Linked DNA regions of Homo sapiens. The protein of the gene in region 1 interacts with the protein of each later gene in a pairwise test. Each region holds a gene or a part of one and is shown on either strand. Other genes may lie near its edges.

The links. The genes of interacting proteins can lie anywhere in the genome.
Region 2: the proteins of TOMM34 (region 1) and ATP6V1D interact in a two-hybrid assay, tested with the Homo sapiens proteins (one study listed by BioGRID).

What each region holds. Positions count from the first base shown.
Region 1 is NC_000020.11:44,946,898-44,950,397, reverse strand, and holds part of TOMM34 (mitochondrial import receptor subunit TOM34), read left to right. Parts: intron 1-1,520; coding exon 1,521-1,668; intron 1,669-3,500. UniProt on the Homo sapiens protein: Plays a role in the import of cytosolically synthesized preproteins into mitochondria. Binds the mature portion of precursor proteins. Interacts with cellular components, and possesses weak ATPase activity.
Region 2 is NC_000014.9:67,346,305-67,349,804, reverse strand, and holds part of ATP6V1D (V-type proton ATPase subunit D), read left to right. Parts: intron 1-700; coding exon 701-768; intron 769-2,351; coding exon 2,352-2,396; intron 2,397-3,500. UniProt on the Homo sapiens protein: Subunit of the V1 complex of vacuolar(H+)-ATPase (V-ATPase), a multisubunit enzyme composed of a peripheral complex (V1) that hydrolyzes ATP and a membrane integral complex (V0) that translocates protons.

The DNA.
Region 1 (3,500 bases):
TAGAGTCTTAGTGTTTGAGGACTTCAGGATAGAAACTGACTTAAGTGCATGAGGGAGTCGGGGAAAGACTCAGAAGGGGTGGCAATGGAGGTGGAGCCTTGAGCTGGACCTTGAAGAAGGTCATCAGGTGGGAAGGAAGGAGAATCCTTGGCAGAGACAGTGGAGAGAGTTGGAGAATGAAAGTGCATGGGGGGAACAGTAGGAATAAGGATGACTGCAGAGTGGTGTGTTGCAGGGTGCCAGTGAAGCTGAAGCCCTACTTCAAGAGAAACCTGTGTGCATGTGCACAGGGAGATGTACCCACAAATGTTCGTAGAAGACTGTAATAGCAAAAAACAACTGGAGATAACCCAGATCTCCATAAATGGGAGAATGGACAATTCAGCTTTGGTATTGCAGCAATGAAAATGAAGGAGCTGCAGGTCTGTGCATCAACACAGATGAATCTCAGAAATATAACATTAAGGGGAAAAAGAAAAACCAAGTCATAAAAGAATACACAGACTTATTCTTCTGTATGAAGTTCAAAAACAAAGTAAACAGCAAATGATCTGTGGGTACTGTTGTATATAGTTATACTGTTTAAAAAGGTGGGGAAGAAGCACAGAATTGGGGATAATAGTTTCCTCCAGCAGTGGATTGAATTGAGGAAGGTCCCCCAGGACTTCAAAGGTCCTAGTTATGTTCTTTTTCTTAAACCAGGCAATGAATTCAGGGTGTAAACCTATAATCTTACCCTGGTCATAAATATTTAGTATTTTATAAAGATAGTTTTAAAAATTTTTGAAAAGCAGATGATATGGAGCTGAGGCTGGAATAATTAATTGGGGCCAAGCAGTGAAGGGCCTGAACACCAAGTTGAGCAGCTTGGATTTCACCATGTTCCCTCTGCTTCCTCTCCTTGAAGGCTGGAGCAGAGCTGCATGTGTTAGATGAGGGAGGATACTCACAGGCTCAGCCCAAACCAGAAATGAGGAATAGCAGGCTCTTCTCCCCTTTTCTCATAGCCCAGAAGCTATACCTTTTCTTTACCAGATATTTGTTTATTAGTATTTATTTACTTATTGTCCTGCTTTAAGTTTATAGTGTGTTCCGTACTTTCTTACATACTCTCAGATTTGACCCTGAAAATAGCCATCTGTGGAATTAGTATTGCCCTATTTTATTGGTGAGGAAATTGAGGTCCAAAAGTTAGGTAGGTCACACAAGATCTTCCAGCTACCAAGAGGCAGTGCCAAGGCTAGAACCTGGGTTGCTTTTTATCATTTATATATTTTTATGTGCATGCAAAAATGTTTTTATATCAGGATTCCCCAACTTCTTGATGAAAAACTGTTGAATTGCCCAGAAGCTATTAATTGGGGGAAGTCATTAATCAGGAAGGATGATTTACAGCAGGGGAGGAAATCTCTGGGAGAGAGGATTGTAGTCAGTTTGGAAGGGACGATGCTGAAGAGACCTCACTGATCTCAGTTGGGTGCTGCTCCATGGTTTTTTTCCTCTTCTGAATTTGTATCTAGTGCCTTCTGCTGGGGATGTGGAGAAAGCCAGAGTTCTGAAGGAAGAAGGCAATGAGCTTGTAAAGAAGGGAAACCATAAGAAAGCTATTGAGAAGTACAGTGAAAGCCTCTTGTGTAGTAACCTGGAATCTGCCACGTACAGCAACAGGTATCTCCTATACAGCTGCTGGCCTGGGGCATTTCAGGACATTTGTTCCATAGTCTTCTCTTGGACTGCAATGGGCCCTTCATCCCTAGCATTTAGTCAAGTATGTTATGGCTGAAAACATGCATCCACGTTGTGAGCTAGCCATGACCAGTGGCATTCATTCTCTCAAAAGGGTAGAAACTGAGGGATGCCAAATGGTAGCCTGGGCTTTGTTGGCCCCTGTCCCCAGAATTTTCATAAGCATGCAATGTAACTAAAAGCAGTGTGCCTGCTCTGCAAACACAACCCTAACACAAGTCTCTTAGCCTGTCCACCCCACCACGCTACGCTGCTCCCTACCCTTCTCCAAGACCCTCCTGTTAGAAATTCTGGCACCATTTCTGTCTGAGAGTACTGGCCCAGAAGCCAAAATGTGAAGTAACCATTGCCTGGCATGAGAGCAGGAAGGATGGGTACAGTCTAGCCTGAAAGGTTAGACTTGTGGGCCTGTAGAAAGTCCTGCACCAGGAGCTGCCGTCAGTGACCACTGACTGAGAACCTGGGAGCCAGGGTGCGGTCCCTTCACTGTGTAGGAGTGATTGTTCTCCAACAATGCTCGTATAGGTGGTCTTTCTGTTTTAGTGTTTAGAAAATTGAGGCTCAGAGAAGGAAGGGTTTTGCTTTAAACTCAGCCAGCCAGTAAATGTTGGCACAAGAATTGGAATCTGACTTCAACAAGATCTTCCTGTTACTTTTACTCTCAGAAGCTTGAAACATTCAGCAAGAGACCATATCAAAACCAAATGCTTAGTATAAAACATTATAAAATGTTAGAAATCTGTTTATCCTTCCCTACCAGCATACACATATCACTCTCTAGTTCAAAAATCTTGGATCTAATATAGACACATTGTTCCTTATTCCAAACTCTTGAGATAAAATGTGTTTTCCAGCCACGGTGGCTCAATGCCTGTAATCCCAACACTTTGGGAGGCTGAGGCTCCGGGAGGATCACTTGAGGTCAGGAGTTTGAGACCAGCCTGGCCAACACGGCAAAACCCCATCTCTACTAAAAATACAAAAAATCAGCTGGGCGCTGTGGCACATGCCTGTGATCTCAGCTACTCAGGAGGCTGAGGCAGGAGAATCACTTGAACCCAGGAGGCAGAGGTTACAGTGAGCCAAGATTGTGCCACTGCACTCCAGCCTGGGTGACAGAGCGAGACTCTGTCACAAAAAAAAAAGAAGTGTTTTCCATTTTAGTGAGGTAATATGGTCTGAATTATGTAACACCCCAGCAGTGTCTGGGGCAGCTTGCAGAAGTTAATTATTAGTATTTCTGCCAGTGAAACTTGAAAATTCCATGTTCACATGGGGTGGAATAGAGAAACTAAATAGCTTCATGTCAGTTCAGATCAGGTTTTGCTGCCCAATGAGTTGGAAAGAGAACTTGTAGTTTTAAAGCTTATATTTTGGAATTTTGCACCTGTGGTTTTATGTGGTTTTATTGCTGATTGGACCAGAGGGGCCACAATTTGCCAGGCTAATTTGAAAAAGAAGCCTGCAGCCTATTTGTTCCATATTTGTGTGGCATCTTCTAACTCCTCTATCTCTGGACCCTCTTTCACATTGCTTACCTTATGCTGCTGGACACCTCCATTAACTCATTTTTCTGGATCATTACCATATTTGGAGCTGTGTTTTGTCTTGTTTAGATACTGTTCTTCATGCAGGTGTCTGTGCCACACTGTTTTAATTGCTTTTGCTTTATAATATCTTATAGGGCTGGTCTTTTCTTCATTCTTCTTAATCAGAGCATTCCTAGTATTTTCCCATGTTTGTTCTTCTAGCTA
Region 2 (3,500 bases), on another chromosome or scaffold:
TAGCAGAGGGTGGAGATCAATCAATAGTGTATAAGTGGTATGTGAGTGTTTTAGGGTGGTTATGGGGAAGATACTTTCTATAATATTTATTTTTGTTTTGTTTTGAGATTGGGTTATGAGACTGGCTAATTTTTGTATTTTTGAGTTTCACCACATTGCCCAGGCTGGTTTTGAACTCCTGGCCTCAAACAATCCTCCTGCCTCGGCCTCCCAAAGTGCCAGGATTACAGGCGTGAGCTATCGCACCCTGCCAGGAAGGCACTTTCTGGTAACATTTGAGAAGTCACACAAAGCCAGATGGAACATAGTTTCCAGGGTAAAGGAATTGAACGCCAGCTTAACCAATTCAATAGCAAACCTAGAAAGGAGTTTTCTCTATCTCACACTAGCAGAAGAATCCTTAAAGTTATATCCATGTAGCACACCTCTGACTGAAAACATAAGCAATCCACGAACTTTAAAATCATTCTTTGTTCTTTTCTTACTGCTAATGTTTTGAATATTGTTCATTCTCTGCTTTCAGAGGCCCTCCTCTAGCAGTAATGACTTTTCTCCCTTTTTGGAAAAAGGACAGTTATCAAAACATACTTAATTGTGACATCTCACTCTTGGTCTCATTTAATGTTAAAACTATCCAGTGGGTCCCTGTAGGTTTATTTCTGAAGAGTCTGCTAAATAAAGTCTTTCTCTTTTTCTGCAGCACTACAGTTATCCAAAATGTCAATAAAGCGCAAGTGAAGATTCGAGCGAAGAAAGATAATGTAGCAGGTAACGTTTCAACCTTTTAGAAACCCTTTGGGGAGAAAAGAGGTGACATTTTAAAATTAACCTGTTTATACAGCAAGATCTTAATGTCCTAGTTTCTTCCTTCTACTTAGAACAAGTTGATTGGCTTTACATGTTAAAATCATTAACAACCAGGTTTCTAATTACTCAGGATAACTTGACTTTTGTATAGAAGTGAACACTTAAGAAGGCAGGTTCCGGCTGGGCACGGTGGCTCATGCCTGTAATCCCAGCACTTTGGGAGGCCGAGGTGGGCGAATCACAAGGTCAGGAGTTCGAGACCAGCCTGGCCAACATGGTGAAACCCCATCTCTACTAATAATACAAAAATTAGCCAGGTTTGGTGGCACGCGCCTGTAGCCCCAGCTACTTGGGAGGCTGAGGCAGGAGAATCGCTTGAACCCGGGAAGCGGAGGTTCCAGTGAGCCGAGATTGCACCACTGCACTCCAGCCTGGGTGACAGAGCAAGACTCTGTCTAAAAATAAAAAATAAAAAAATAAAGAAGTCAGGTTCCACTGGATGTGGTGGCTCACACCTGTAATCCCAGCACTTTGGGAGGCTGAGGTGGGCGGATCACAAGGTCAGGAGTTCGAGACCAGCCTGGCCAACATGGTGAAACCCCATCTTTACCAAAGAATACAAAAATTAGGCCGGGTGTGATGGCTCACACCTGTAATCCCAGTGCTTTGGGAAGCCAAGGTGGGCGGATCGCCTGAGGTCGGGAGTTCGAGACCAGCCTAATATGGAGAAATCCTGTCTCTACTAAAAATACAAAATAAGCCAGACGTGGTAGCGCATGCCTGTAATCCCAGCTACTTGAGAGGCTGAGGCAGGAGACTCACTTGGACCCAGGAGGCAGAGGTTGTGGTGAGCCGAGATTGCGCCATTGTACTCCAGCCCAGGCAACAAGAGCGAAACTCATCTTTAAAAAAAAAAAAAAATTAGCTGGGCATGGCATGTGCCTGTTGTCCCAGCTACTCAGGAGGCTGAGGTGGGAGAATCACTTGACCCCAGGAGGCGGTGGTTGCAGTGAGCTGAAGACCACACCACTGCACTGCAGCCTGGGCGACAGAGTGAGACTCTGTCTCAAAAAAAAAAAAAGAAGGCAAGTTCCTAAATTCATTAATTGAAACCAATTACAATTCCATACTTAAGCTCTTGATTTTTGAGTTTGATGAAAAAGAAACACAGAAAACAGTGATTAAGAAACAGAATTTAGGCCAGGCGCGGTGGCTCATACCTGTAATCCCAGCACTTTGGGAGGTTTAGGCGGGTGGATCACCTGAGGTCGGAAGTTCAAGACCAACCTTACCAACATGGAGAAACCCCGTGTCTACTAAAAATACAAAATTAGCCGGGTGTGGTGGTGCATGCCTGTAATCCCACCTATTCAGGAGGCTGACCAGGAGAATTGCTTGAACCTGGGAGGCAGAGGTTGCGGTGAGGCGAGATCACGCCATTGCATTCCAGCCTCGGCGACAAGAGCAAAACTCCGTCTCAGAAAAAAAAAAAAAAGAGAGAACTTAAAGGTTTATGAATCCATGTATGCTTCTGTGTTTAACAGGTGTTACTTTGCCAGTATTTGAACATTACCATGAAGGAACTGACAGTAAGTGTGAAACTTTTTGTATTACTTTGTGTCTCTGGGATTTCCTGTTTCCTCTTTAAATGAACTAAGTTCTGGAAAATGGTGCTAGATGTTGAGAGGTTCCTGAGTTAGAAATCCTCTTATTTGATATAGTCAGGACAATAGTTGATCAGTTAATCAAAAGGTCTTAAGGCCGGGCACAATGGCTCATGCCTGTAATACTGGCACTTTGGGAGGCTGAGGCAGGCAAATCTCCATCTCTACAAAAAATATAAAAAATCAGCCAGGTGTGGTGGCACGTGCCTGTAGTTTCAGCTACTTCCAGGGCTGAGGAGGGAGGATTGCTTGAGCTGGGGAGGTAGTTGCAGCGAGTTCTGATCACGCCACTGCACTCCAGCCTGGGCTACAGAGCAAAACCTTGTCTCAAAAAAGAAAAAGGTCTTATGCTAGGAAGTCATAAAACATTATACATATCTTAAAATATTTCAATATTTTATCAGAAATATATCAATGTAGAATCACTTGCTATTTAAAAAATATAAGGCCTTTTGAATATGAATTCACTGATTAGACTTCTGTGTTGTTTTTCTGCATATCCTACACCCACAATGCACTGCTTATAATTCCCAGTTTGGGTCTCTTTAAAGTCAAATAAGATCTTAGACACTGATGCAACCTGAATGCTGATTCTTTCTAGATTTTTATAGCCCACTTCCACTTTTTAAATAACTGTCTTATTCATTCCATTCCTAGTTTGACAGCATATTTTCTTTCCAAAGTAAAGTATTAACTTTTTTCATAGAAACAATATTCTTGGCCAGGCACAGTGGCTCACACCTGCAATCCCAGCACTTTGGGAGGCTGAGGCAGGTGGATCACCTTAGCCCAGGAGTTTGAGACCAGCCTGGGCAACATGGTGAAACCCCGTCTCCACCCAAAAAGTTACAAAAATTAGCTGGGCCTGGTGGCATGCGCCTGTGGTCCCAGCTACTCGGGAGGCCGAGGTGGGAGGATTGCTTGAGCCTGAGAAGTGGAGCTTACAGTGAGCTGAGATCGCACCACTGCACTCCAGCCTGGGTGGCAGAGTGAGACCCCATCTCAATAAATAAATAAACAAATAATATT